7 linked regions of the Homo sapiens genome follow. The protein of the gene in region 5 purifies or fractionates together with the protein of the main gene of each other region. This does not show direct contact. Each region holds a gene or a part of one and is shown on either strand. Other genes may lie near its edges.

The links.
Region 1: the proteins of ITM2B (region 5) and CHST12 purify together in Homo sapiens (affinity purification with mass spectrometry; 3 studies listed by BioGRID and IntAct, with this or other methods). This does not show direct contact.
Region 2: the proteins of ITM2B (region 5) and TMEM219 purify together in Homo sapiens (affinity purification with mass spectrometry; 3 studies listed by BioGRID and IntAct, with this or other methods). This does not show direct contact.
Region 3: the proteins of ITM2B (region 5) and TGFBR3 purify together in Homo sapiens (affinity purification with mass spectrometry; 3 studies listed by BioGRID and IntAct, with this or other methods). This does not show direct contact.
Region 4: the proteins of ITM2B (region 5) and SEMA6A purify together in Homo sapiens (affinity purification with mass spectrometry; 3 studies listed by BioGRID and IntAct, with this or other methods). This does not show direct contact.
Region 6: the proteins of ITM2B (region 5) and DGKE purify together in Homo sapiens (co-immunoprecipitation; one large-scale study listed by IntAct). This does not show direct contact.
Region 7: the proteins of ITM2B (region 5) and FERMT3 purify together in Homo sapiens (co-immunoprecipitation; one large-scale study listed by IntAct). This does not show direct contact.

What each region holds. Positions count from the first base shown.
Region 1 is NC_000007.14:2,427,295-2,431,514, reverse strand, and holds part of CHST12 (carbohydrate sulfotransferase 12), read right to left. Parts: intron 1-4,220. UniProt on the Homo sapiens protein: Catalyzes the transfer of sulfate to position 4 of the N-acetylgalactosamine (GalNAc) residue of chondroitin and desulfated dermatan sulfate.
Region 2 is NC_000016.10:29,964,486-29,968,705, forward strand, and holds part of TMEM219 (insulin-like growth factor-binding protein 3 receptor isoform 1 precursor), read left to right. Parts: intron 1-3,539; coding exon 3,540-3,769; intron 3,770-4,220. UniProt on the Homo sapiens protein: Cell death receptor specific for IGFBP3, may mediate caspase-8-dependent apoptosis upon ligand binding.
Region 3 is NC_000001.11:91,711,652-91,715,871, reverse strand, and holds part of TGFBR3 (transforming growth factor beta receptor type 3 isoform a precursor), read left to right. Parts: intron 1-3,329; coding exon 3,330-3,629; intron 3,630-4,220. UniProt on the Homo sapiens protein: Cell surface receptor that regulates diverse cellular processes including cell proliferation, differentiation, migration, and apoptosis.
Region 4 is NC_000005.10:116,473,678-116,477,897, reverse strand, and holds part of SEMA6A (semaphorin-6A isoform 2 precursor), read left to right. Parts: coding exon 1-52; intron 53-2,294; coding exon 2,295-2,353; intron 2,354-4,220. UniProt on the Homo sapiens protein: Cell surface receptor for PLXNA2 that plays an important role in cell-cell signaling. Required for normal granule cell migration in the developing cerebellum.
Region 5 is NC_000013.11:48,256,942-48,261,161, forward strand, and holds part of ITM2B (integral membrane protein 2B), read left to right. Parts: intron 1-1,184; coding exon 1,185-1,295; intron 1,296-1,855; coding exon 1,856-2,006; intron 2,007-4,197; coding exon 4,198-4,220. UniProt on the Homo sapiens protein: Plays a regulatory role in the processing of the amyloid-beta A4 precursor protein (APP) and acts as an inhibitor of the amyloid-beta peptide aggregation and fibrils deposition. Plays a role in the induction of neurite outgrowth.
Region 6 is NC_000017.11:56,832,390-56,837,381, forward strand, and holds the start of DGKE (diacylglycerol kinase epsilon), read left to right. Parts: upstream 1-1,761; 5' UTR 1,762-1,871; exon of another isoform or gene 1,872-2,080; coding exon of another isoform or gene 2,081-2,116; intron 2,117-2,388; coding exon of another isoform or gene 2,389-2,406; coding exon 2,407-2,870; intron 2,871-3,970; exon of another isoform or gene 3,971-4,992. UniProt on the Homo sapiens protein: Membrane-bound diacylglycerol kinase that converts diacylglycerol/DAG into phosphatidic acid/phosphatidate/PA and regulates the respective levels of these two bioactive lipids.
Region 7 is NC_000011.10:64,216,077-64,220,296, reverse strand, and holds part of FERMT3 (fermitin family homolog 3 short isoform), read right to left. Parts: intron 1,047-4,220; coding exon 939-1,046; intron 774-938; coding exon 639-773; intron 558-638; coding exon 508-557; intron 419-507; coding exon of another isoform or gene 407-418; coding exon 282-406; intron 78-281; coding exon 1-77. UniProt on the Homo sapiens protein: Plays a central role in cell adhesion in hematopoietic cells. Acts by activating the integrin beta-1-3 (ITGB1, ITGB2 and ITGB3). Required for integrin-mediated platelet adhesion and leukocyte adhesion to endothelial cells.

The sequences.
Region 1 (4,220 bases), on a different chromosome or scaffold from region 5:
AGGAGAGTCCACACTCTGACTCCCTCTCCCCCAGCCAGGTCAGGGCCCAGTAGGAGCTGAACTCCAACTCTACTCCACCCCTATCTGGCACCCATGACATGGCGTGAGGTGGTTAGAGGTGGGGCAAGTTGGCCCTCTACTTTCTCACCTCCTCTCTCCCGGGAATGGAAAACATTAATCATGCAAATATTAATGAAAAGAAAGCAGGAGTGGCTATCTTAATATCAGATGAAGCAAATTTCAGAAGGAAGGAAACTACTAGAGACAAAAGGACATTACATAATGACAAACAGTTCAATCCCCAGGAAGACATAACAATCCTAAACATGTATGCACCAAACAACAGAGCCTCAAAATACAAAAAGCAAAAATCGATAGAGCTAAAGGATAAACAGACAAATCCACAATTATGGCTGGAGACTTCAACACTTCACTCTTGATAACTGACAAAACTATGAGGCAGAAAATCAGCAAGGATACAGAAGAACTCAACACCAGCAACCAACAGGACATAACCGACATATGCAGAACACTCACCTAACAAGAGAACACAGTTTTTTCTAAGTGTCCACAAAACATTCACCATGGTAGACCAAACCTCAGCTAATTTAAAAGAATTGAAATCTTGACAGGGCACGGTGGCTCACATCTGTAATCCCATCACTTCAGGTGGCCAAGGCGGGTGGATCATTTGAGATCAGGAGTTGGAGACCAGCCTGGCCAACATGGTGAAACCCTGTCTCTACTGAAATTACAAAATTTAGGCTGGGTGTGGTGGCTCATGCCTGTAATCCCAGCACTTTGGGAGGCCGAGGCAGGTGGATCACTTGAGATCAGGAGTTGGAGACCCGCCTGGCCAACATGGTGAAACTGTCTCTACTGAAAATACAAAATTTAGGCTGGGCATGGTGGCTTATGCCTGTAATCCCAGCACTTTGGGAGGCCAAGGCAGGTGGATCACCTGAGGTCAGGAGTTCAAGACCCGCCTGGCCAACATGGTGAAACCCCGTCTCTACTAAAAAAATGCAAAAATTAGCTGGGCATGGTGGCAGGCGCCTGTAATCCCAGCTACTCAGGAGACTGAGGCAGGAGAATCGCTTGAACCCAGGAGGCAGAGGTTGCAAGGAGCCAAGATTGTGCCACTGCACTCCAACCTGGGTGACTGAGCAAGACTCCATCTCAAAAAAATAAATAAAAATGAATAAATAAATAAAAATAAAAGAATTGAAATATTTTATATAAAGGAATAAAACTAGAAATCAATAACAGAAAAGACAACAGGAAAATCCACAAACACAAATTCCTGGAAAATAAATGACACATTTCTAAATAATAGCAAAGGAAAAAGTTAAAGTACACAGAATAGAATGAGAATGAAAATACAACATATGTTACAGTCACTGTGGTGCCAAGAGCATTAGAAAGCAGAAAAGGCCGGGCACGGTGGCTCTCTCCTATAATCCTAGCACTTTGGGAAGCCGAGGCGAGAGGGTCTCTTGAGCCCTAGAGTCCAAGACCAGCCTAGACAACATGGCAAAACCCCATCCCTATAAAAAATGCAAAAATCTGCCGTGCATGGTGGCATGCACCTGTAGTCCTAGCTACTCTGGAGGCTGAGGCAGGAGGATCGCTTGAGCCCAGGAGGTCAAGGCTGCAGTAAGCCGAGATCGTGCCACTGCCCTCCAGCCTTGGTCTTAGCAAGACCAAGACCCTGTCTCAAAAGAAAAACAAAAACAAAAAACCAACCAAACAAATGAAAAAAACCTACAAATTATCTTTATCAGGAACAAGACAAGGAATGAAATTATAGATCCTGCAGCCATTGAAAGGATAAGGAACTATTACAAACAATTTTACGCCCACAAATTTAGCAACCTAGATGAAACAGACCAATTCCTTGACAACCACAAACTACCAAAATGAATAATCCTATACTAATTAAAGAAACTAAATTTGTAACGTAAAAGCTCCTTAAAAAGAAATCTCTGGGCCCAGATGGTTTCACTGAAGAATTCTATCAAACATTCAAAGAATAACAACATCAATTTTATACAATCTCTTACAGAAAGGAGAAGAGAGGACATGTCCAACTCATCATCCTAATACCCAAACCAGTGAAAATAAGTACAAAAAAAAAGAGGCCGGGCGTCGTGGCTCACGCTTGTAATCCTAGCACTTTGGTAGGCTGAGGCAGGAGGAACACCTGAGGTCAAGGAGTTCAAGACCAGCCTGGCCAACATGGCGAAACCCTGTCTTGTAGGGAGACCCCCTGAAACTATTGCTATGGAATAAAAGATGAAATGCTCCTGATTACTGTAAATACAAAGTTGCATTCAGGATTGTGTAAAGACAATGCCAGGTTGGACTGTCAGAATGAGCCAACAGCACGTGATATGCTTCCCCCTGCAGAGAGCCTATGAACGGACATGCAGTCAGGGAGCTTTCACATCACCAAGATTCCTATCCCAGAAAAGCAGATGTTCATAGCTCTGGGAATGGAATGCGACCCTTGTGGAGAGCCTACAAACGGACGCATGGGGGGCGCCTGTCCATATGGATAAGATAGTGCTATAAACGCCCTCATCTTGCCACGGCTCTTCTAGGCCTCTTTAGGGTTAAGGCATACTCCCTTCTGAGAATTTCTGGTCTAACTGGCTGTCTAGCTTCACGTCCTGTTTCTATGGATTGTTTGTAACCAGCTTTTGCTGCAACTATTACTGCTGATTAATATCTTGCTAATCATAGGTTATGGAAAGCCTGTGTTTCTGTTTTAAGGCTGTTAGAAATTACTGATGCACATGCTATATTGTAAATTCTTATCTCTGTATACTGTACTTCTGCATACAGATGTTATGTTAAAGAATTACTTCATCCCCATGTGACCATCTCACCTCATAATCAAATGACCCTAAATCCCTCACTAACCTACCCCCGCCCTCACTAAACTTAATAATAAATGCTGGTATATCCAGTGCATTGGCGGCATCGCAGGACCAGAAGGCGGTCACCCCCCGGACCCAGCTTTCACTGTCTTGTGTGTGTCTATTATTTCTCGACCTGCTGATCCGCCTGGGAACAAATAAAAGAGCCCCGTTGCATTGTGGGCTTCTGGCCAGATCCCACAATACCGTCTCTACTAAAAAATACAAAAAATTAGCTGGGCATGGTGGTGGACGCCTGTAATCCCAGATACTCAGGAGGCTGAGGCAGGAAAATCACTTGAACCCGAGAGGCAGAGCTTGCAGTGAGCCGAGATTGTGCCACTGCACTCCAGCCTGGGTGATAGAGCAAGACTCTGTCTCAAAAAAAAAAAAAAAGAGAGAGAGAAAGCTACAGGCCAATATCACTTATGAACTTGGATGCAAAAATGCTCAAAATATTAATAAACCAAATCCAGCAGTGTATAGAAAGAATCACAGCATAGTGACTCACGCCTGTAACCCCAGCACTTTGGGAGGCCGAGGTGGGTGGATCACGAGGTCAGGAGATCCAAACACGGTGAAACCCCGTCTCTACTAAAAATACAAAAAATTAGCTGGCCATGGTGACGGGTGCCTGTAGTCCCAGCTACTCGGGAGGCTGAGGCAGGAGAATCGCTTGAATCTGGGAGGTGGCGGTTGCAGTGAGCCGAGATCGCACCACTGCACTCCAGCCTGGGTGACAGAGCAAGACTCCATCTCAAAAAACAAACAAACAAAAAGGAGTCACGGCATGACCAAGTAGGGTATGCAAGAACGGCTCAATGTTCAAAAATCAACCATGTAATCTATCATATTAACAAGCTAAAAAATCAACTCCTACAGGAAGGAACAACAAAACCCATATCCATTCATTATAAACACTCTCAGCAAACTTAGCAAAGAGGATATCCTCAACTTATAGGGCATCTACAAACACCCTACAGCTGTACCATTTTTCTATCATCTCTGTAGGGGGGGGTGGCAGATGGAAGGCCCAAACTGTGTTGAACTTTTCATCTTCAAACAAATGTGTAAACTTTTTTTTTTTTTTTTCAAGACAGAGCCTTGCTCTGTCACCTAAGCTGGAGTGCAGTGGCACAATCACAGCTCACTGCAGCCTTGACCTCCTAGGCTCAAGTGATCCTCCCGTCTCAGCCTTCCAAGTAGCTGGGACTGCAGATACACACCACTGGGCCGGGCTAATTTTTAAAAATTTTTTATAGAGTTGTGGTCTCACCATGTTAACCCGGCTGGTCTTGA
Region 2 (4,220 bases), on a different chromosome or scaffold from region 5:
CAAACAAACAAACAAAAATACAAAAAGTAGCCAGGTGTGGTGGCAGGTGCCTGTAGTCCCAGCTACTTGGGAGGCTGAGGCAGGAGAATCGCTTGAACCTGGGAGGCGGAGGTTGCAATAAGCAGAGATCACACCACTGCACTCTAGCCTGGGCAACAGAGACTCTGTCCCGCCCCGCGCCCCCCCCACCACCCTGCGCCAAAAAAAAAAAAGTAAGGTGAGATCACAGAGGACTGTGGGGTCGGGTATCAGAACACTCAGGGCTGGGCCCTGCCTCTGACCTCACCAATGATGACCTTGGGCACATCCCTGGACTTTAGTCACTTCTGTGATTAGGGCTTTCAGTGAACATGCTGCCGACAGGGTAGGTTTTCTATGAATGCTTTCTTCCTCTGCCAGTTCTGATGTTCTTTGAGTCTATCCTTGGAGGTAGGATGAAATGGGCTAGGTTTGACCTAATGTTTTCTCATCCTTTAGCCACCTCCTCCTAGAGGCCCCTTTTTCCTTAGCATAGTTCTGTATGCCACAAAAGATGCAGAAAAAAATTAGACACCATCAATTTCCAAAGAGCTATAGTCTTCTGGGAAAATGACAAGCGATAGGGAGAATGTGAAAATGTCAGTGGATGCCAATAATCCCTGTGTGACATTTGGCCTTATCTAAAATATGCTAAGATAAAGAGGGATGGAAGAGGGTGGTATTTTCTGACTTCTGAGGTCCTTTACAACACTATCATTCTAAGATTCTCCTGTGAGTATATATGTGTCGGGGGAGTGGGTCTCTGCATGTCCAGATGTACATGTATGTTAACAAAAATAAGGAATGTGTCCGATATATGCAGACTTGGGACAATTCTTTCCCATTCTTTTTACTTTTAAATAGATATATAATAGTTTTATTGAGATATGATTCATGTACCATACAATTCACCCATTGAAAGTGTACAGTTAGGGCCGGATGTGGTGGCTCATGCCTGTAATCCCAGCACTTTGGGAGGCCAAGGCAGGCAGATTGCTTGAGCGCAGGTGTTCGAGACCAGCCTGGACAAAATGGCAAGACTCTGTCTCTACTAAAAATACAAAAAAAAAAAAAAAAAAAAGCCAGGCGTGGTGGTGCACACCTGTGGTCCCAGCTACTTGGGAGGCTAAGGTGGGAGGATTGCTTATCCCTGGGAGGCAGGGCTTGCAGTAAACATTCTCCTGCCTCAGCCTCCTGAGTAGCTGGGATTACAGGTGCTCGCCATCACGCTCACCTAATTCCCGCCCCCCAGCCCAAGGAGTCTTGCTCTGTCACCCAGACTGGAGGGCAGTGATGCGATCTCAGCTCACTGAACCTCTGCCTCCCAGTTTCAGGAGATTCTCCTGCCTCAGTCTCCCAAGTAGCTGGGATTACAGGCATGTGGCACCATGCCCAGCTAATTTTTGTATTTTTAGTAGAGATGGGGTTTCACCATGTTGGCCAGGCTGGTCTTGAACTCCTGACCTCATGATCCGCCCGCCTTGGCCTCCCAAAGTGCTGGGATTACAGGTGTGAGCCACTGCGCCTGGCCAATTTTTGTATTTTTTATAGAGATGTGGTCTCACTATGTTGCCCAGGCTAGTTTCAAACTACTGGGCTCAAGTGATCCTCCTGCCTCACCTCCCAAAGTGCTGGGATTACAGGCATGAGCTACCGGGTCTGGCGTATTACCCAATTGTTTTATTTACTTTCTCTTGATTGCTAGTAAGGTTGAGCCTCTTATGGTTTATTGTCTGTATTCATGTTGCCTGTGAATTACCTGTTTGTTTCCTTTGTTCCTTTTTCTTTTAAGTTATTTGTCTTTTTCTTCTTGATTTGTAGGTCTTTATTCTAGATAGTAAACCTTTTGTCATTTAAATATATTATAGGTATTTTCAATATGTTACTTGTTTTTTTAACTTATCTTTCATTGCATAGAAGTCTTTAATTTTTATGAGGTTAGGTTTATCACTCTTGTCCTTTATTAAAACTTTTAGGTTTTGTGTCTTTCATAGGAAGCCCTTCCTCATTTTAAAATTAGAAAATATTCTGGCCAGGCGTGGTGGCTCATTCCTATAATCCCAGCCTTTGGAAGGCTGAGGCAGGTGGATCACCTGAGGTCAGGAGTTCAAGACTGGCCTGGCCAACATGATGAAACCCCGTCTCTACTAAAAATACAAAAAATTAGCCAGGCATGGTCGTGGGCACCTGTAATCCCAGCTACTCACAAGGCTGAGGCAGGAGAATTGCTTAAACCTAGGAGGTGGAGGTTGCAGTGAGCTGAGATTGCACCACTGCACTCCAGCCTGGGCAACAAGAGTGAAACTCTGTCTCAAAAATAATAAAATAAAATAAAATAAAATAAAATATTCTGTATTTTCTTTAAATACTTAAGTTTTTTTTTAGTTTGTATAGTTCTTTAATACATCTGAACTTTATTTTATAAGATAACAGTTTGACGCTATGTTTTTTTCTACATGGAAATTTTCCCAAGGCCATTTACTGAGGCCATCCTTTCCCCACTAATTTAAAATAGGGTGAGAACCTTTTAATGGATTTTGGTACCAAGTGAGAAACTGCTTTCTTAAAAAGAATGAACTAGTTTATGCAAACTGACATGGGCAATGTGTATCTGCCCATTTCACTGCAGCCTTGCGAGTATTAGTATGGTTGTTGTATTGATTGTAATTTAAGTTAATTTAAATTACAACTTAATTTGTGTTTATATTGATACAAAGTTATTTTCATTTCTCAGTGATATAAATAATGGTATATGGAATACTTTATTGAATAGAATCAATGCCAAAACACCTGGTATTATAGAAAGCCTTAAAAAATGACTAGGGGCAGGCGTGGTGGTTCATGCCTGGAATCCCAACATTTTGGGAGGTCAGGGTAGCAGGATGGCTTGAGCCCAGGAGTTTGAGTCCAGCCCGGGCAATACAGTGATACCCTGTCTCTACAAAAAAATTTTTTTAAATTAGCCAGGTAGGTGGCACACACTTGTAGCCCTGCCTACTCAGGAGACTGAGGTGGGAGGATCACTTGAGCCTAGGAGGTTGAGGCTCCCGTGAGCTGGGATCGTGCCACTGCACTCCAACCTGCACGACAAAGTGAGACCCCATCTCAAAAAAATAAAGAAAGAAAGAAAATACAAGAAAAGGGCCGGGCACGGTGGCTCACGCCTGTAATCCCAGCACTTTGGGAGGCCAAGGCGGGCGGATCACGAGGTCAGGAGATCAAGACCATCCTGGCTACCACAGTGAAACCCCGTCTCTACTAAAAATACAAAAAATTAGCTGGGCCTGGTGGTGGGCACCTGTAGTCCCAGCTACTCGGGAGACTGAGGCAGGAGAATGGTGTGAACCCGGGAGGCGGAGCTTGCAGTGAGCCGAGATTGCGCCACTGCACTCCAGCCTGGGTGATAGAGCGAGACTCCGCCTCAAAAAAAAAAAAAGAAAATACAAGAAAAGAAGCGTGAAGACAGAGGCTCCCGCGTCACCTCTCATTTTCTTCCATTTTCTCTTCTGTGCCTTTCACAGGATCTTCTGCAGGACAACTGGTCCTTATCACAGCCAGGGTGACCACAGAAAGGACTGCAGGAACCTGCCTATATTTTAGTGCTGTTCCAGGAATCCTACCCTCCAGCCAGCCACCCATATCCTGCTCAGAGGAGGGGGCTGGAAATGCCACCCTGAGCCCTAGAATGGGTGAGGAATGTGTTAGTGTCTGGAGCCATGAAGGCCTTGTGCTGACCAAGCTGCTCACCTCGGTAAGAGCCTCAGATGGGTCGCCAGGGTTTTGTAGACTGCCTGCTGACTACTGTATCTTGAAGGTCCCTGGAAACAATTCTACCTTGTAGAAAAAGCACAGGTTTTATAACCCTGCCTTGGGGGCTGTGTGACGTAGAACAAGTGTCTAAACATCTCTGAGTGTCAGCATCCTCATCTGTAAAACAGAAAACATGACCCTATCTCTTAATTCCATCAAATAAGGATTAAATGAGAATGACCGTGAAGTGCCCAGCACATTGCCTGGGACATAGAGATTTGATAAGTGACAGCTATTGTTGTTTACTATTGTCTTTAAAACATTCTCTCTACTTCAAAGGAGTTCAGAAGCTATAATAAGAGGCAAATGGGCTAATTGCTATTAGAGAGATGTGAGCAAAGTGTTATGCAAACACAGAGAAAGGAGCCATTAACCCTAACTTGAACATTTAT
Region 3 (4,220 bases), on a different chromosome or scaffold from region 5:
TTTATTTCTTTTTTTTTCCCTGCACAGTCCCCTTAGCCCCCAGCAGGGCAGCCAAATCCCTGTGGGTCCATGCCGCCACTGAAACTGACTTGTTATCTTTTAAATTGCACTCACTTTTAAGTGAAATGCTATGTGCTATTATAACTCATGACATTTTTTTTTCTAGATCATGATCTGAGTATCTGTATAAACTTATTTAAACTATTTCCTATATATAATGTTAATAATCATGTGCAACCTAAATCTGGAATCTGGAGTGACTACACAATATTAGGCAGTGGCGGTAATAATGAAATAACAACATCTAACATTTGCTGCAGATTTATTATGTGCCAAACAGAGTTGTAAGTATTGCAGCAGTTAGTTAACTCTTTAGAGCCATCCTATAAGGGAGGCTAATAATATCTTCATTTTATGGATGAGAAAATTGAGGCACAAATTTGTCTGAGGCCACACAGCTGGTACTAGTGGAGTTCAGATTCAGTGCTCATAGGCCGTGTGACTCCAGAGCTCTGACTGATCTTCGCTGGATACGACTATCACTTATCTCCAAAGTGCCATTTGAAAGGGGAGAAAACATAACGTCTTATCAATGCAAACATCCAGGTTCAGAGAGTGGATTCTAGAAAAGATAAATGTCCTTATGGCACCAGGATGTCTGCTGTTTCTTGTGCCCTGGGTACAACCTTTCATGTTTCAACCTTAGTGTTTCAAGTGGGCATATCATCTGTTGGTCTTATGGGAAGGTCCTCATCTAATGAGCTGGTTTTGGTGCTCAGCTGCAAGCTCAGCTTCATAGTGGGAGGGGTGAGAAGCTTAAAGGGTCAAAGTGGGGTACTTCCATATGTTAAAAGTGACTTTGGTGCACGTGTTTCTGTTTTGGAAAGACACATAACTCTCACATTCGCACTGACTCTGGGACAGAGCCCGCTGGCGCTAGATGTTGTTTTCCTTGATCATATGGATTCTGCCCCTCCCCCATTCTGAGAGTTCTCTTTCTTTGAGCACACCTTCTTTCTCCATTGGGGAAAATATACTGCCTTCTACATGCTTTTCCTAAGCCAAGATGGCTGTTTTTCTCTTGCTTTTCTGGCTGTACAGTTCACATGGGCAGTTGGTCAACAGCACCCTATTGCGCTGTGGATTTCAGGGGTGCTGCATAATTGCAGATTGTTCTTTTCCAAATCTATGCCTGGCTTTGCTGATTTATGCTAATCAGTGGTCAATCTTCCTCCTGTACCTTACCCTGGATATTTTGGGTTTTTTCCCCCATCCTTCAAATGCTGGCTTACTTGAAGTGTGTTATTGGTAGTTTTTTTTTTCCATTCTTGTTTTCCCATTTATACCTTTTCATATATCACCTATATTTCTCATAGTTTATCCTCTATTCCCTCTACACCATACAGTCCCTTTCATAATCCAAGTTAACAGTGTTGCCACCTGTTCATTGGTCATCTCCAGGTGACTGTTGGTCACATAATGGCAGTTTTCTTTTGGTTCATTTGTCTTGGGGAATTTACAAACCCAGTTGTTAATAACCCAAAATTTTAAATCTAGAATACTACTATTACTAATAGGTAGCATTTATTGACACTCTGGGAACTGTGTTGTTTGCATGTAACTTTTACTTTGCTAGTTTTCACAATTATGATATCTTGTGGGTATTCGTGTTCTCATTCTGTAGGTGAGTAAACTGAGTCTCGGTGCCCAGCACGTGAGCAGGAGAGCATGTAATTTTTATGAGCTCGTCTCACTACAAAGCCCGTAGTCCTTCTCCTACTCACTTCTGGTCTAAAAGTAAAATCCTTTTTAGTAAAAGATTTGCTGATAATTTATATATATAAACTATATATACATAAAATATATTAAAAAATAATATATATTTTTTCCCTCTGCTACAAAGGTATCCCTTTTTGGGATACCTTAGACATTCTGCCGCTACATACTTTCTTTTGAGATTAGAGAAGAGATTTGCAGTCCCTCTGTTACACATTTTGGCATGTGGTTTCTGAGTTCATGTTAAACGGCAGTTTTTAGTAATAGCACATATGTAATTTGCCACCTTTCCAAGATAGAATATCTTGTTTTTCAGAAGTATTGCAAAAATACTGAAGTGTTAGTATTTACAGAATGTCACCACAGTGACATTATCAGAATCCTCTTCATTAGCATTTTCACTGTTGAGTGTCCTGCAGTTAACCACCACGTAGGAATCTTTCACAACAGTGCTGCGGATTCAAAGCCCCATGTGATGTCAGGGGTTTCCCCTGGGTATCTCAGCGTGGAAAGTCTGTTTCTATCTCCATGTCTTTTGAAATGATTCTGCGGCTGTTGGTCTATGGGTAAGGACTAGCTGTTTCTACAAGTGTTTAAGTTTATTTTGATCCTAAATTTAGTCAAAGAATGAGGCATAGCAGGGAGGGGCAGTTCATGCAGTGATCCACGTGTCACCAAATGGAGAATCTCCTCTGGTCTGGGGATTTTAGCTAAGTTCAGGATAGTTGAGGTTTGAATTCTGTTTACACTTGGCTAAACATTACTTCCTGTTTCTAAGGAAAAGAACCTTAACAAAATTTGGACGTAGCCCATACAAGTGTTTTCAAAGGGGGAAGTATAAATGAGTCGGAAACGTTTCCAGATTAGATTTCCCCTAAACTACCCCTGGGCTTATGGAGCGAAGGGGGAGTACTTGGCAAGGCTGATTTGGATCTGTGAGCAGCTGGGACACTTTACCAGGCCCATGATGGCCTCCAGGTTGCACCGTCACTGACACCCAGCGCCGGAGCCAGCTCTGCCTTCTCGCCGATGAAGCAGGACTCTCATCAGGCTTACTCTGACTTTTTGCAATTTAGAAGCTCAGTCTTCCTGCCTAGGTTAAATAGATTTTGCCGCTGAACTCTATTTTTTGGTCAGTCTTTAAAAAGAGCTTAGCTTATAAGTGTTGTACTATTAAAACATTAGGGACTTTGCCTACTGGTGTTTTATTTACTTCGGAAAATCCACTTTAAATGCAAAATATGTTTTTATTTTTAGCTCTCAGAGGACTCATTGGGAGGTGGAAGAGACTTACTCATCTTGTATTTGAATCTAATGGACTAATATTTGAAAGAAATAATTCACTGTCATCATCTATATCAAATTGAAGTGGAAAATATCTTTTTCTTTCAATGTGTGTGTGTTACTTTTGTAATTAGAAAGAAGGCTATAACTATGTTATGAAGATAAAGCAGCGTGTCATCTGAAGGGCTGTCTTGGCATATGGTCCTTGTGCCTAAAGTGAAAGTGAGATGCTAACTCATTTCCTAATTCATCTTTCTGTTCTTTCATAGGTATCTGTTACTAAGGCTGAACAAGAACTGGGATTTGCCATCCAAACGTGCTTTATCTCTCCATATTCGAACCCTGATAGGATGTCTCATTACACCATTATTGAGAATATTTGTCCTAAAGATGAATCTGTGAAATTCTACAGTCCCAAGAGAGTGCACTTTCCTATCCCGCAAGCTGACATGGATAAGAAGCGATTCAGCTTTGTCTTCAAGCCTGTCTTCAACACCTCACTGCTCTTTCTACAGTGTGAGCTGACGCTGTGTACGAAGATGGAGAAGCACCCCCAGAAGTTGCCTAAGGTTTGTGGGCCTTCATCCATTCGGATGGTTATTTTGGCATTTTTAGGTGAGGCAGAAAAGTTTAATCCCAAGGTCTTGCAGGTTGAGGTTTTTTGTTTTGGAACTGCCCAACTGAAATATTAAAGTCACTATTAGCAGGGAACTGTGAGTTTTATGGAGTCTTAGATAATAAATCCTGACAGCATGAGTTTCTTTTTTCCATGCGTGCTACTTAGTAGTACCTTACGAGTGATAAATCAAGACGCTTTTCCATGGAGGGAGATTTCTGGCTTTATCTTTGCTTTTCAGATAGTTTGCAGGCCAAAAACACAGCAAGCCGAAAGGACAAGTTCATTGTGAGAATTAATTTTTCCAGGTCCTGCTGGGACTGGCATTGTCATTGTTTTTTAACCTTTTCTGTGTGAAATATAAGGTTGACTTGTCTCAGGGAGACTTCTAGGGGAAACTAACAAATATTTTAGCTTTTCTCAGTTTCATATCAGTTCATCATATTTGCCTCCTGTCACTCTCCAGATTGAATGTTCTATTGCCATAACAAAAAGCAGAACCATTTGACCTTGGTGGAATGCATTTGATAGGGGAGATCTGCAA
Region 4 (4,220 bases), on a different chromosome or scaffold from region 5:
GTGGATGGATAAAGGAAGGTGGTGCCTGCAGCCATTTATCACCCAACAGCAGGTAGGCAGCCTGAGGTGTGGGAGAGGGTGAAGTGGCTTCCAGCCAAGGTGTATTCTAGATGTAAGATTTGCTCTGCTCACACACACCACCACACAGCTTTCTGTGCAAACTCCAGCAACGGGACTGTCAGCCTTTCTCCTACCCTTTCCCATTTCATAGAGCCTCACCACATCACATGTGGCAGATTTCCAATTGATTAATCATCCTCGGACTGATTAAAAACACAGAATGGAAACACAGTGGGCTTCAATGTATTCCCTGGAGAGAGAGACAAGAAGGTGCCTGCCTTGATCATCATGGTGGGAGAAAAGCAGAGAAAAGGAGCAATAGGATACCAATTAGATTAGTGAGTGGTTTGTCCAGCCATAGCAAAACCGGCTTTTGTAATTGACTGTGCAGGGCTGAGAAGAAATTGCAGAACATTTGTTAAGCAATGTAATTGTACTGCAAGCATGGTGTATACATCCAATAAACCTTTTCCTGCGCTGAAGAACAGTTGACCCTATTACTCATCAGGCCGTCAATCAATTCTTGGCAGTTCTCCAACAGATCAGCTAGATGAGGCCAGTCCACCATGCCTATGATTTTGGTGTTTAAAATTGTTACCCTGGCTTTAAATGCTTAGATGGCATTAGCTAAGAGGTTTCTTTTTATGCTTTTACTTCAGTGGATGTGAAATCCAAAATAAATTTGCAGAAGTATTCAATGTTTATCTTTGATGGGTTGTGGCAGGCAGTTTAGGAGGTTAGACAGCACAGATCTTTCTTCAACACAGCCATTTCTTCAACCTCCTCAGATCCAAAGGGGGAACAGAACCATCTTTAAATCACTGTGAGCCTCCCTTCCTATTTCAGAATAGCTAAACAAACAGATCAAGGGCATATCTGATGACCACTACCTGCATAATTTGAGGACAAGTACTCTCGTAAACAGAGCTGATGATAACTATAAAATCTGACCTAGAAATTTGACTAATGCAAAAGGTTGAGTCTCTGTATATTATTAGAACAGCTTTGCAAGTAGCATTATTGACATGCTATAATCTTAGAGCTCTGTACCTTTGCATGGGAACCCTCAAGGTGGAGGAGAAAGGATCACAAAGCATGGTGAGGGGAGCTATGAGATGACCTATGTCCTTTCTATGTTCAACATGTGACCGAAGGCTATAAGACTGAATTTTAAAAAATTATTGTTAAGTCAATATAAGAACCCCAAAATAGTTTCCTTAAGGTTTGCATTCATATTTCAATGATGCTGGCATTGCTTAAAACATGGGGCGTTCCCTTTGGAGAGTGGGCTCCAGGGCATGATGAATATTGGCTGTCATTACCACTAGAAATCTTCATCTTTTGAGGGATTTGATTTTTAATGTGGCAAAAAAGATTAGAAACCAAACACGGTGGATTATTAGATCAAGCTGTGACTTTCAAAATAGTTTTCCTATACGGCTCATAAATAAACTCTGAAAGCAGTTGCAAAATAAGAGTTTCAATTATATTATGGGAATATGTACAAAGTGCCCCCAAAGGAAGGTGACTCTGGTGTGCTTATTTTAAAAATCAAAATAGCTTTTATTAAAATTGGTTTTGTTAATGTCATGTTGCTTGTACAGCCCAATGGTGACCTAGTAGACTTGGAAGAAACATGAGCATGTCAAAGAGAATGAGAGTAATACTCCCAAGGACTGGGGCAGGGCTGGGAGTGAACAAATAACCAAGCAGTCTCCACAAAATGCACCACCGGCTCCTGTCCCCTCACTTGGACCTTTGAACACTTTATCGTCCAAGTTTTTGGCTAGATAAATGTCTAGGCAAAAAACCTTGCCTAGGAAGGCAAGGGTAGGAGTGAAAAAGAGAATAGAGAAAAAAAGATTTTTCTTTTTAATTTATAGACTTCCATATTGTTTCTATGAGGCGTGTATTTTAACATCTAAACTTCTTAAATGTTTAAGAAATGCTCAGAGAATTAGAGTAAAGAAGGATGTAAATAATCTGCAAGCTAATTATCTCCCTGAATAATATCTGAATTCACTGCTTAAACCATGGCTTCTCTTTGGAGAGTCACCTAAGACTCGTTTCTATAAACTTCAGAGATAAATTTTAAAGCTGTTATGTATTTCTTTTTTGCACCTGCCACTCAATTTATCAAACTGTGTTACTGTCTTTAGTGAAGCTTGACTCATTTCTGAAGACTCACGTTATTGTATTCATTTCTGTCTCTCTTTCCCTTCCTTTTTTAAAAGACTGACTTTTGAGCAGGACATAGAGCGTGGCAATACAGATGGTCTGGGGGACTGTCACAGTAAGTACAGTCTTTTATCCATTTTTATCTTTGGGCAAAGATGCTTTCAGTGAATGGCCTAGAAACATCAGCTCACATGTGGAACTGAGTGCAGCTGACACTAAAGCATGCGTAAATGACGGAAATCATCTTCTAAATACCAAACAAAGAAAGCAGTGCGTTCTAAAGCCAGTGTTGTCAATGTTGTCACTATAAATGCTGGCACCTATTTCATTAATTCTAATGCAGGGGAAAAAATTCACCCTAGAGGATATTAATTGTAGCAAAGCAGTAAGTTAAATCAGCATTTCCATTACAAAATGACAGTTTTGCTGTTTTTAAAAACATGCTTTTATACTGTCATTTTCCGCCAAATAATAATAAGATTGATCATTGTACTCTAGCTTTTTAATTGAGTGGGCCTGTTTTATTCTTGAACATATCGACTAACAAAAGCAATTATGTTTTTAAATTAGATTTGTGTCTATTACCATATGTAATAGGAAAAAAAATTTCAGAAATAACCCACAAGTACAAGGCAATTCAAAATAATCTTTTTATAGGAATTGGCCTACTATGTAAATCTCAGAGATAGTTATTAAATGGTAACATTTTAGTTAGAACTTTACGTAAAGGATCTGGCTCAAATTTCTGCCCAGTTGTCATGTGACCCGATTAATATCAATATTCTCCTGAAAATGCTTTATTAATGCTAATTTAAAGAATAATACCATACTCTTGGAAAATATGTTTAGTTTGTGCTGTTTCGAATGTTATATATGCTGAATTTCAAGAAGCTTGCATTCAAAATGGCACCAAATAATAGCTTCTAAGGGAATGAAGCTATATTATCCTGATATTTGATTCTATAACGGAAGTCACGGACATAACTCTAAATCTTTCAGTCATAAGTACTGAAATTTCAGACTCTAAAGTGTCATTCAACTTTCTACCTTATCTTTTTTAGAGATTAGTTATAATCAAATAAAGAGGGCTAAAGGCAGACTTATCTCCAAATCTTTGCCATATACATATTTTTCATTTACAAATATTATATATTGGCAAAAATTCTTATTATGTCTTACACACAAAATTGATGAGTTAATAAATAAGCATAGGAGAAGTGTCATCACTAAAAGATGTATGTTACGTGTGTGCGTTCATCCGTATCAGGGAAATAGTTTGATGTTTGATCAGTGGACCTTAATCATCTTGGTGCATTATAGCTTTATTTGCAAGGAAACAGGTTTTAAGATGTGTGTGTGTGTGTGTGTGTGTGTGTGTGTGCATGCGTGCACGCTTTATTAACAGCTTAGTTAGCTGATGTTAATGAGCTATTTTCATCATATTTATATTACTTGCAATAGTGGTGTCTGTAGAAAAATAGGGGTGTAGATTTGGATCAAATCAGAAAATACGTGAAACATGTAAAGATGGTTGGTACTGTGTCTATAAAATGTCCACTATACCAGTAGGCTCACACCCTTATCTGTGTTCTCAGGCAGAAGAACCTAAGGAAGCCTCTGTATGTAGCATAGGGGACGCTCTCAGGTCCCAACCCTGTGCTTTACTCTTTATTTCCAGAGTAATCTTAGTGGTCAAGCAAGCCCCTGGATCTGCCTTCGTGCTTTGTAGTGTGCCTTTGACCTTTAACCCCACTCTTGCGGAGGCACTTGCCAAGGGTGCTTGCTCGGGGCAGGAGGTAAGGCTGCCCCTCTGCCTGCCTGCCTTTGCTCATGGCTTCTCCTCTCCCCGTGTTCCTGCTGAAGCATGAACTACCTCTATTAGACAGACCTATCCCCACATAGGTATTCAGGGAGGATTTCTCTAACTGGTACAATCATTATAACTGGTACAAAATTAACAGGATTTTAAAGGGAAATGAGGA
Region 5 (4,220 bases):
AATTAACATGATCTTATAGGACAGTAGTCCCCCCTTATCCGTGGGGGATACATGCCAAGACCCCCAGTGGATGTCTGAAACTGCATATAGTACCAAACCCTGTATATACTATGTTTTTTCCTGTTAGTGTACATATATACATATGTTAAAATTTAATTTACAAATTAGCCACAGTAATAGATTAACGACAATAATAATAAAACAGTTATAACAAAATACTATAATAAAAGTTATGTGAAGGTGGTTTCTCAAAATATTTTATTATGCTGTACTCACCTAGGTATTTGTGGACTGTAGTTAACTAAAGGTAACTGAAACTCGAGAAGCACAACCTCAGATAAGAGGGACTACTGTATTTAATATGTTTACATTTCTGTTTATGTTTACATTTCCCCAATTTTTGTCCCAAGAATTTTTTGTTTTTTCAAATCAGGATTCAGAGATTCAGAAGTTCATGTATCACCTGTGATTTTTATGTCTCTCTGTAAGCTTGCCATTTTGAACACTCGAATATATTACTGAAGTTAGCTTTGCAAACATTTCGTGCCTGATAAATACATCTGATGGATGTTTATAAACCAGTTTGAAAATTTACTTATTTCAAGGAAATAAACTTCCAAAGCAAATAGTAAATAATAATAGTTAACACTTACTGAGCTCTTAGGAATCAAAATGTTGACATTATTTGATTTAAGTTATTCTTAAAAACCGTTCTATGAGACAGTCTTTCTCAACCAGCGTTTCTCATTTGAACCACAGAACACAAAATCATTTAAATGACTGTTTTTCTAATGTTCTAAGGATGGTAGTATTCAAGATACATATGAGAAAATTTAATCTTTACAAACAATGGACAGATAACCTTAGAGGGCATTTGAGCTTATAAGTGGGGAAGTTAAATTGCTTAATTATATAATAAGTATTTGCAGTTAATTTGAATAGGTATTATTACTTATTATAGAAATATACCCTCGATGAGCATTTTATTTACTGGTAGCAATATTTTTTCCTCTCCCATTCCCACTTCCAACTTTATCCAGCCAAATTCTGAATTTGTTGAAATGCAAGTGATTTATACATTCTAAAGCCAATTCATTTTAATGATACAAATTATTCTTAAAAATCCAGTTGCTGCCTGTTTTTGCAAGTATTACTGTAACTACACTGTATCTTTTTCTTCCCAGAAACTTACAGCCTATTTAGATCTTAACCTGGATAAGTGCTATGTGATCCCTCTGAACACTTCCATTGTTATGCCACCCAGAAACCTACTGGAGTTACTTATTAACATCAAGGTATAAGAATGTTGACTGTTTTTGATGAATGATGCCTTCATAGTGTTCTGGAATTCCCTGTTGAGAAATTAGCCCTATAGGAGCCCATTTTATCAGACTGTAGTTAAGAATTTTACAAAGAGGAACTAATACTCATGGTTTTTGTTTTTAATGTTTTATATCTTGAAATTGAAATAAATTTCTCAAATAATGTTTTAAGTTTTCCTAAAGAGCCAGGGAGTAAATATTAGCCAACTACTTAATTCTGGTGCCATAGACAATACGTAAAACAGATGAACATGACTATATTCCAAAAAAAATTCTACTTATAAAAACAAGCCGGGGGCGGTGGCTCATGCCTGTAATCCCAGGACTTTGGGAGACCTAGGTGGGAGGATTGCTTGAGGCCAGGAATTTGAGACCAGCCTGGACAACATAGTGAGAACATAAACAAACAGATGGTGGGTAGTAGTTTGGCAACCTGTTCCATACCATAATGTGTAAGAATTTTGTCTTGTTTCTCTAGTCTACTCAGTGTATGTTCTGAGATAGTCATGTCATGTATTCTTTTCTGAATGTAGGCTGGAACCTATTTGCCTCAGTCCTATCTGATTCATGAGCACATGGTTATTACTGATCGCATTGAAAACATTGATCACCTGGGTTTCTTTATTTATCGACTGTGTCATGACAAGGAAACTTACAAACTGCAACGCAGAGAAACTATTAAAGGTAATACTTTTTAAATATTAAAGTGTTGGGCAGAAAAGTTCATTGCATTAAACTAGATTTAGGTGAAGCCTAGTCATTGTTACCAATATACCTGCCATGAGTGAGGTAATATTGTGTCGTTATATAATATTTCCAGGTTTCTATAGAATTATCTTAATTCCATTTAGTAAGTCCACTCTTTTCAGGTGGAGAGAAAAGGTCAATGTGAAATGTCATTGCCTTGAGATGATGGTACCTCATTTTCCATCTAGTTAGTCACCCTGTCCAACTTCCCATCCTACCACTTTGGTTGAGCCATACTGAAAGGGTTTTTATTATCCAGAGGGTGTCTTGGGACCAGCTCTTCAGCTGTGTTTTCAGGGATCTGGATTCTAAGCAGGCTGTTTGCCTTTTGGATCATATTGGGAATAATCACTGTCAGGGTAGTTGGAAAGGAATTTGGGTGAAGAACTAAGAGCATTGATACAACTAATGTTGTAGCTTTGCCAAATCATTTAACTTTTATTTTCTCACCTGAAATATAAGAATTACAGTATCTCCCCATTTCCTTTTAAGAGCATTGTGAAAATAAAAAGAAAGTACATGTGGCAGCTGTGGAAAGTAAGAAGTGCCATTCAGATACACTGTGGTGTGATTTCTTTGGAATTGTGTCACCCAGTAAAAGTGCTTTCCTGGCTTTTTGCTAGCATTTTAAATAATACTGTTCTCTCATCTCCGGCGGTTGAGTCATCTGAAACCAGCTTGATTTCTTTTTTTTTTTTTTTTCCAACTTTTATTTTAGATTCAGGGGTACATGTGCAGGTTTGTTACAAAGGGTATATTATCTGATGTGAGGTTTGGGGTACAGATGATCCCATCACTCAGGTAGTGAGCAAAGTACCCAATAGGTAGTTTTTCTTTTCTTTTCTTTTTTTTATTATACTTTAAGTTCTGAGTTACATGTGTACAATATGCAGGTTTGTTACATAGGTATACAGGTGCCATGGTGGTTTGCTGCACCCATCAACCTGTCACCAAATTAGGTATTTCTCCTAATGTTATCCCTCCCCTAGGCCCCCACCTCCCGACAGGCCCCAGTGTGTGATGTTCCCCTCTCTGTGTCCATGTGTTCTTATTGTTCACCTCCCACTTATGAGTGAGAAGATGCAGTGTTTGGTTTTCTGATCTTGTGATAGTTTGCTGAGAATGATGGTTTCCAGCTTCATCCACGTCCCTGCAAAGGACATGAACTCATCCTTTTTTATGGCTGCATAAAATTCCATGGTGCATATGTGCCACATTTTCTTAATCCAGTCTATCTTTGATGGACATTTGGGTTGGTTCCAAGTTTGCTATTGTGAGTAGTGCCACAGTAAACGTACATGTGCATGTGTCTTTATAGCAGCATGATTTATAATCCTTTGTGTATATGCCCAGTAATGGGATTGCTGGGTCAAATGGTATTTCTGGTTCTAGATCCTTGAGGAATTGCCACACTCTCTTCCACAATGGTTGAACTAATTTACACTCCCACCAACAGTGTAAAAGCGTTCCCCAATAGGTAGTTTTTCAACCCTTACCTCCTCCCTCCCTCCCTCCCTTCCTTATAGTCCTCAGTATGTATCATTCCCATCTTTATGTCAGTGAGTTCCCAGTGTTTAGCTCCTATTTATAAGTGAGAGCATTGTAAGGTAGGTATTTGGTTTTCTGTTTCTGTGTTAATTCATTTATGATAATGGCCTCCAGCTGTATCCATACTGCTGCAAAGGACATGATTTCTTTTTTATTGCTGTGTTGATTTCTTACATTTTAAAATTCTCTTGGTTCATAATTTTTTTTAAAGTCAGCCTTACACGTGCCATGAAATTTACCCTTTTTAGTGTGCAACTCTGAGTTTCCACAAAGATACACAAGGTCTTGCAAGCACCACCATAGTCAAGATACAGAACATTTTCAATACCTTCAAGTTCATGAATTTGTAAGCAGTCTGGATAGCATTATTAATGTTGCTGTGATCTGTCAAGATATTAATACTTGGTTCAGAAAAGGGAGAAAAATTACTTTTCTTCAGTGTAAACATTCAAACTGTAGAAGTTTTTGTGGAATATAGAGTGAAATACTTCTATATGTCTAAATAATAACTATAAAAATGATGTGAATATTTATTATTAAAGAATCAAAATTTTAAAAAACTTTTTTCCCTCTCCAACAGGTATTCAGAAACGTGAAGCCAGC
Region 6 (4,992 bases), on a different chromosome or scaffold from region 5:
AAAGAGTTAACAACAACAACAAAAAACTAAACAATTGTGAATCCTTCCTCTGTCTCTCTGGGATGTAATGTCTCCTACACATCAGGAGTATCCTTCTCAAGAACCTGAAAGCCATTCCTCCAACATGCAATCACCAGGAAGCAAAGGGCCTATCTCCCAGTTACTGTGGGAGGATAGGACCCTGACTCCCATAACAGCCATCTAACAGGCACTGTCGCCTAACCTTACTTACACTGACCCACCCTTCACAAGTTTCACTTTCCTGACTACTGAGTTCCTGCTCATCCCCTTCACATTCCCTCCTCCTCCCTCTTAAACACCTAGTCACTTCTGCACAAAGTTCAGTTCCGTTCACGAGGTACCTTCTTCCCTATTACAATAGTATATTATTAAAATCTGCTTTACCACTTTTACTAGTGTCTAGCTTTATCTTCTACAGTTAATACAAATATACGCACATACACATGCATATATATGCACACATAATAATATATACATACACACATACACGTATATATACATCTATATGTGTATTCTTAATGAATGTTATGTCTTCTCTAATCGTTTGGAAGATATTATCAAGTATTTCTTTGCAGTTTTCCTATGATCTCTGCGTTTCTTTTCTGTTCCTTTGGTCCCTTGCTTCGGTGTGTGTTTTCTTTCCATCTTTTATGCTAGAGGAAGTCCGCAAGCAACAAGTGGTCCTCGGCTCCCACTCCTATGTATGTATGTAGTAGGAAGGAAGCCGCTGAGTGCAGCTGTGCGCGCCGGGGCGGTGCCTGTGCCTCTCTGGATTCCGTGTTTCTTCGGGGGTGCTGAGCAGCGGTGCTTCCGCGTCCGCGTTCTCCGGGTAGCTGATGTGCTGCAGGCTGCAGCCCGCGTGGTCGCGGCTCAGGTCCGTGTTGGGCTGGTAGGACTCCAGCGGGGAGCGAGCATTCCTCCGGAACCTGGGGCTGGACGACAGCAGCAGGAGGCGTGCTCCCATCTCCGGTAGTCCCCGGCTCCCGCTGCTCCCCTTTCTCCCCGGCCTCGGGCGCTGGCGGGCGCGGGCGAGGGGGTAGCGCAGGGGAGGCCCGCCCGCCACGGCAGGGGGCGGAAACCGCGGCCGGGCTCGGGGTCAGCGGCGACGAGCGGGCGGCTGCCCCGCTCGCCCTCGGCCTCCGCGCCCGCCCGCCGCTCCGCAGCGGAGGAGCCCTCAGGTTTGCGTTACTGCGGCCGCCACACCTACCTCAGCCCGCCGCGGCCAGGTCGGGCGGTGCCGCGCAGGCCGCCTCCCCCCCTCGCTTCCCAGTCGGCTTACGCATCCCCGGCGGCGGCGGCGCCGGCATCGGCTAGAGGTTCGGCTCAAGTCGGGGGCACTCGTGTCTGCGCCGAGCGGCGGGCGTGAGCGCGGCCCCTGGGCCCCGCGCGGCGCGGTGCTGCGAGGAGGATCCTCGTGGCCTTGCCCCGCCGGCGGCTTTCCAGAATTTTCTACGATTACGAAGTTTTGGCATTCAACCCTCCATCCTCTCAAACGCCCCACTGTTACTCCGCCCCCTTCCCCTAGGCCCCGCCCCCAGCCGCAGTGCCCTGCCTCTTCCATCCGTCTCCAGCCTCCTCCACGGCCCCGCCCCCTCAGGCCGGTCCGTCTCCCCTCCCACCTCACACCTCCGCCCCGCCCGTCAGCCCTGGCTCCGCCCAGCCACGGGGCTCGCCGCCACAGGCCCCGCCTCCAGCTCGCGGCCCCGCGCGCCGGATCGGCGTGCGTGCGGCTGGAGCCTTAAGCGTTTCCCCCGCCCGGCTTCATCCCTGCTGGCGGCCCAGCGTCGTTCTCCTCCTGCGCGAGGCGGCCAAGGCCTGCTGGCCCGGAGCCGCGCCTCCACCCGCGCGAGGTAGGGCTTCGAGGACCGGCGCGGCGCAGGTCTCCGGAGGCCTCCCGAGAGGGGCTAGGGTCGCCGGGCCGCGCGTGGGAGCGGGTGGGGCCCGGGAGGAGACGGCGCCCCGGAGGGGAGTGCGAGGCCTGGGCCGACGGTTACGGGCGCCGACCGGCGTTGCCTGGCCTGAACGCCCGGCCTTTCGGTGGAGGGCAGCTTGCCCCTGTATGTTGCGCCCTTCCGTGGGTCAGACCGGCGGCAAGGTGAGGCGGCGGCGGCAGCAGCAGCCGCCTTGGGCTCCTGGACGCGCTCCCGAGGTGGGGCGGGTTGGGGAGTGGGGATTGGAGCGTGATGGCTGGACGTCGCCTTCTCGGCGCGGCAGGTCCCGGGAGACGGGGGGACGAGGCGCAGTCCCGCCCTCGGGAGAGCGGAGCCACCTTCACTGAGGGCGCCCGGTTTGGCCCCGGAAAGGCAGGAAGGGGGCGGGGAAGGGATGGCGAGCTCGGGGTGCACCGCCTGTTTCTTTTCTGGTTAGGTATCGTCCTTGGAGAAGATGGAAGCGGAGAGGCGGCCGGCGCCGGGCTCGCCCTCCGAGGGCCTGTTTGCGGACGGGCACCTGATCTTGTGGACGCTGTGCTCGGTCCTGCTGCCGGTGTTCATCACCTTCTGGTGTAGCCTCCAGCGGTCGCGCCGGCAGCTGCACCGCAGGGACATCTTCCGCAAGAGCAAGCACGGGTGGCGCGACACGGACCTGTTCAGCCAGCCCACCTACTGCTGCGTGTGCGCGCAGCACATTCTGCAGGGCGCCTTCTGCGACTGCTGCGGGCTCCGCGTGGACGAGGGCTGCCTCAGGAAGGCCGACAAGCGCTTCCAGTGCAAGGAGATTATGCTCAAGAATGACACCAAGGTCCTGGACGCCATGCCCCACCACTGGATCCGGGGCAACGTGCCCCTGTGCAGTTACTGTATGGTTTGCAAGCAGCAGTGTGGCTGTCAACCCAAGCTTTGCGATTACAGGTATGGTCTTCGTGGACACTCACTGTCCCAGAATGCGCCGTGGGAATCAGGATTTCATAGAGTGGTGTAGAGGCCTGCTTTAATCTCTGCTGATGACCTAAACTCATTTTGAGGAAACAAGCTAATAAATAAACATCCCTGAGTTTGTGCAAGCGTGGCAGCTTTGCAGTAGTCATTTGCTGAGACGATGCATCCAGCCTCCACTCCTCAGCCAGCCTGCCCTTTTGGGTAATAAAACTTGGCTCCTAACGTTAATACAGAGGTTTCTAAGTGGTGCCTGCTTCATGGCCACTGTATATTTTAGCTTTTGTTCCTATCGATTATCTCCTTATTTTAAATAAGGAAAAATGAAATATGGACAAATTAACTTTTCCCTTCAGCCGCAAAACTGATGGGTCACAGGTTTTGTACTATGAATGTGCAGTGAAAACAAGTGTCATTCCAAGGCAGCACTTTTATGTCTTTTGCTAATATAGCTGTTGGTACCATAGCGAAATATACTCAAAAAGAACACTGAAAGGAATATTCCTTTTGACGCTTGGTCTTTCAGGACATGTAGAATCTTAGATAAGTGACCTTGATTAAGCCAAGAATATTTTAATGTCTTTTATATACACACTGGACAACACATTTTTGTCCTTAAATATTGTTTGAAAATAGGTGAAGATGTCCTTTGCTGATGTTGGAAATTGGTAAAGGAGAATGCTGCTTTGCAAATGATCTATTCTAACTCAGTTCACAGTTGAGAAAATTAAAGCCCGTTAGGTCCACTCTGGTAAAATAGGACTGGCCTCCAGGATTTCCAGCTCTGGACTAACACTTAGCCTCCTTTGAGCCTTAAGTCTGGACATCTTCATTGTAATGGGTTTTATTTCTGACAAGTAGAAAGGCGCATAAACATGCTTAAGAAATGAAATAGGCAGTAAATAGGAAGCTGCTTTTTAATTTTTTTAATTTTTTTTGCAGAAATTCTTTCATTAGCATGAACGCTATTATAATGTCAATACCTGTTTTTAAGTCTTATTTTAAATAATTTTACACATTATCAAAGAGGCTTAAGAATAAATGTTCAAAATAATGTATTCTAGACAACTACAAAGTTTTGTAACCATGCATTTTTATTTGGTATCTTTAAAAATTAAATGCTGTCCTTCTGGCATCAGTGAGAGCCAAGTTAGCAGGGACTTTAAATAAATTTCATAATGAATTGAGTATTGTTCTATTTCCTTCCCTTCTCTGGTGTAGCCTCCAGCAGTCTGTGTCTGTGCAGAATTATATTAAAAATGGTTTCCATAAATAACCGTATTTCAAATACTCTTGAACACATAATCATGCTTCTGATCCTCCACCCAAATGATCTTTCTAAAAATGCAAATCTGATCAAGTCCCTGCTCTGCTTAAAATCCTTTAAATTGCTCCCCATCGGGTAAGCTGACTGTTTTACAGTGTAAACCCCTAAGTGCTTTTTCACAGGGTACATAAGGTCCTAGTACTTTCTGGCCTCTGTCCTTTTAGTTTTATCTACCACCACCTGCATTAAACTTTATGCACCAGCAACACTAAGCTTCTTGTAATTTCCTTAAAACGTCAGGCATTTTCTGACATTTCTGCCCCTTTGCTCAAAGCTTTCCTCTCAGTATTCTTCTGGCTAGCTTCTAGGCACCCTTAAAGACCCATCCCATGTCCTTGTCCTTTCCTTCAGGAACTCTTACCTGATCTACTCAGCTTCCCTCCTCCCCCAGTTTTTCCTTTTTGGTGATAACGTAATATCCTATATCTCAGTGGTTCTCAAAGTAAGGTCCCTAGACCAGCAGCATCAGCATCTCTTCAAAATCTGTTAGAAATGCAAATTCTAGGGTTGCTAGATTTAGCAGATAAAAATAAAATATTGCAGAATTTGGAACATAAAAAGTTTCTCTGAAATTCAAATTCAACTAGGCATTGCCGTTTTTTTGTTTTTTTTTTCTGGCAACCCTAGCCCAACCCCAGACCTACTAAATCAGAAACTTGGGCTGGACATCAGCAGTCTTGGTTTTAACAGGCCCTACAGGTCCTTCTAAAGATGGAGAACCACTGCTATATTTACATATCTTTAAAAACATGCACCTCCGTCTCTTAATTT
Region 7 (4,220 bases), on a different chromosome or scaffold from region 5:
GCCCTCAGGGGAGGGCACTAGGAGTTTAATGCAGAACTTCTGGCCGGAGACGTTAACATCGGGAACCACCTCACAGCCTGGAGGGAGAGAAGGGGTGGTCTAGGAGGTCGGGAGGGGAAGAGCCGCCTGAGGTCCTGGAGTGCATCCTAGCCCACACCGTCACCTCAGGACAGAGGGCATCTTCCCCGGTCTCCAGGAGGAAACAGGGCCGGTGAGAGCATTCACCTGCCTAGCCCACAAGTGGGGATCCCCCCACCCAGCCCCTGGCCCTGTGCACTTACCCTTGAGGTTGAGCTGCTGAATGGGGTCCCCAGGGGCCTCGTCCTGGCTCTTGTAGTAGGACAGTGTGGTCTCCTTGAACACCACCCAGTGTTGGCGGTAGCCCTTCAGGGTCAGCTTCCGGGGCCTTCGTGGGATGCTGGGGTTTGTGAAAGGCCGCCTCACCCCCTCCCTCCATATGCAGACCAACCCCTCCAGCAGGGCTGCCTACTCTGGCCCCCAACTCACCGAAAGATTCGGAGATGGTCCTTGAGCTCTGGGATGGTGGTGAGGCTGTCCTATGGGAGGACCAGAGTCAGAGGGGCACCCGGTACCTCACAGTTCTCCCTGCCCAGCCCCTGCCCTGAGCCCCTCCTCACCAGCACATCTGTGGGCGCCGACCCCTCCAGCTTCACCTCCAGGTTGCTCAGGGCCACATCCAGGTCGTCCAGCCCTGGGTCTGTGCCAGCCGGCTCCCCCACCTCCCCGCTCTGGGACAGCTTGTTGATGTGGTACTAGGTGGTCATGAAGCCAGGGAGGGCTGAGTCCAGCAGCCTGGTCCCCTAGCAGTACCCCCAGGCCGGGCTTCCCTGGAGGTAGCCCCCACTCAGGAAGGCCCTTCCTGCCCTGGGACTGGCTCACCTCCCACCTGCCCTGGTGCCCCCAGGCCCGCCTGGTACCTGCAGGGCGGCAAACACCATCATCTCCTCCTCGGTGCAGTCAATCTCCTCCAGCAGCAGGTCCCACCGGGCCTGCTCATACAGCTGTGTCAGCCGCACGGGGTCTGTCTGGAGCGGGGGGAGAGGAGGCTGGAGGCTGGGCTGGTCAGATGCCAGCTGCCCTGGACGCCCTGCACTGAGCCCCTGCCAGCCTTGGCCCTCTGCCCTGCCCTCCTTGCTGAGGCAGATTCATTCAGTGGCCAGACATGGGCCACAGACCTCAACCCCATCCTTAATAGCCTGCTAGCCCCCTGCTGCCCAGGCCTGCACGTCTAAACCTTGGCTTGGTTGTGCTGATGTTTACTGTGTGCTGGCATGCTGCCCTGGGTGCAGGAGAGACCGAGTAAACCAATCAATAAGTCAAATAATCCAAGGCTGCAATAAACACTATCAAGGAAACAGTTTCCACAGGGAAGCTCACATGAGCCCTCAGTCTAAGGCCCCCCCAAGTTCAATGGAGATGACAGAATGGAACATGGGGAAGCAGTCAGGGAAGGCTTCCCTGAGGAGGTGACAAGCTGAGTAGAGATAGGAAGGATGACAGTGGGCCACTCAAGGGAAGCGTGAAGGAAGAGGATTCCAGAGAAAAGGAACTGGGAAGGCAGAGACTCCAAGAGGGGATCCCAGTTACCCACAGAAGACCAACAATCCCGCTGAAACTCACCCAAAATTGATAGCAAAGGTTTAGGAAGATAAACCCAAAAGGACAAAGGACAGGCCGGGGCGGTGGCTTGCGCCTGTAATCCCAGCACTTTGGGAGGCCAAGGCAGGCAGATAGCTTGAGCCCAGGAGTTTCAGACCAGCTTGGGCAACATGGTGAAACCCTATCTCTACTAAAAATACAAAAAATTAGCCACATGAGGTGGTGCGTGCCTGTAGTCCCAGGTACTCAGGATGCTGAGGTGGGAGAATCACCTGAACCCATGAGGTTGAGGGTGCAGTGAGCTGTAATTGCACCATTGCACTCCAGCTTGGGGGATAGAGTGAGACCTTGTCTCCAAAAGAAAGAAAAAGAAGGCCAGGCGCAGTGGCTCACGCCTGTAATCCCAGCACTTTGGGAGGCCGAGGTCGGTGGATCACGAGGTCAGGAGATCAAGACCATCCTGGCTAACACAGTGAAACCCTGTCTCTACTAATAATACAAAAAAATTAGCCAGGCGTGGTGGCGGGCGCCTGTAATCCCAGCTACTCAGGACGCTGAGGCAGGAGAACGGCGTGAACCCGGGAGGCGGAGCTTGCAGTGAGCCGAGATCGTGCCACTGCACTCCAGCCTGGGCGACAGAGCGAGACTCCGTCACAAAAAAAAAAAAAAAAAAAAAGGAAAAAGGAAATAATTTGGAAGATGGAGAGCAAACTGTAGATGGGAACTGGGTTATGCAGAGAGCGCTAGGGCCTCACGCCTTGTCCCTCTCCTGTCTGGTAAATCCACCAATGAGACTTGAAAATAGGCGGAAAGCAATCAGCAAAAAGAACAGAGATCTCAACAGAGGCATCCAGTTTGCATGGCGGACCCCTGGCAGGCTCTGATGGGGATCCTCTGGATGAGATGCGAGGGTGAGCTGAAGAGAGGACTCTGGATAAAGTCCAAGAAAAAAAGCAGGTCCCTCCCCAGCTCCATGCAGCCAAGTGATGGCAAGGAGACACCTGGCAGAAGCTGGGACTCACTCTCTGGAGATGCTGAGCCAGATGCACCCCTGCATTTGGTACCCCAGACACAGCTGGACGGGGTGGGGGTTGCACTAGGGTGAAAACAGACAATTTTTTTTTTTTAAGATGGAGTTTTGCTCTTGTTGCCCAGGCTGGAGTACAATGGCACGATCTTGGCTCACCGCAACCTCCGCCTCCCGGGTTCAAGCGATTCTCCTGCCTCAGCCTCCTGAGTAGCTGGGATTACAGGCATGCACCACCACGCCCAGCTACTTTTGTATTTTTAGTAGATACAGGCTTTCTCCATGTTGATCAGGCTGGTCTCAAATTCCTGACCTCAGGTGATCCACCTGCCTTGGCCTCCCAAAGTGCTGGGATTACAGGCGTGAGCCACCGTGCCCGGCAAAAACACAAATTTAAAGAAAGCTGGCATTCAGATGAGTGACACACCCACACCCTTTCCCACTTGTCACCCAAGACATTGGCAGGAAGCCTTCTATCTCCAGTTGAAAGATCAGTGGGGTTGCCACTGAGAGGCTGAGCCACCAGAGAAATGCCCGACAAAGAGTGGCAGCCCGGCCCCATCGCCTCCAGGGGGCCACCAAGATGCCAAGCCCTACTCACACACTCAGGGTCTCCAATTGGTTTCTTAGAGCTTCACTTTTAAATATGAATGGACAGGCATGGACTACCCACATTTAAGGAAAGCTTCAAGAGTGAACCATAGAGACCAAGACAACAAGAATAAAACAGCTTGGAGGAAATAAAGGCCAGGTAGGGCGCAGAAGAGAACTTCAAACGTGAATCAAAATCCTTGTAGAGTACAAAAATTAGCTGGGCATGGTGGCACCCGCCTTTTTTTTTTTTTTTTTTTTTTGAGATGGAGTCTCGCTCTGTCACCCAGGCTGGAGTGCAGTGGCGTGATCTCGGCTCACTGCAAGCTCCGCCTCCCAGGTTCACGCCATTCTCTTGCCTCAGCCTCCCAAGTAGCTGGGACTACAGGCGCCCACCACCACGCCCGGCTAATTTTTTGTATTTTTAGTAGAGACAGGGTTTCACCGTGTTAGCCAGGATGGTCTCGATCTCCTGACCTCATGGTCCGCCCTCCTTGGCCTCCCAAAGTGCTGGGATTACAGGCGTGAGCCACCGCGCCCGGCGAAAAAATCCTTATAGAGGCTGGGCCCGGTGGCTCACGCCTGTAATCCCAGCACTTTGGGAGGCTGAAGCGGGCAGATCACGAGGTCAGGAGTTTGAGACCAGCCTGGCCAATGTGGTGAAACCCCGTCTCTACTAAAAATACAAAAATAATTAGGCCAGGCGTGGTGGTGCATGCCTGTAATCCCAGCTGCTCGGAAGGCTGAGGCAGGAGAATGGCTTGAACCAGGGGGGCAGAGGTTGCAGTGAGCCGAGATCTTGCCATTGCACTCCAGCCTGGGTGACAGAAGAAGACTCCATCTCAAAAAAAAAAAAAAAAATCCTTACAGAGCTAAAGCACTGCACTCATAAATCAAGACCAGAATATTCTTTTTTTAAAGGAATGTAACTGGGCGCAGTGGCTCACGCGTGTAATCCTAGCACTTTGGGAGGCCGAGGCGG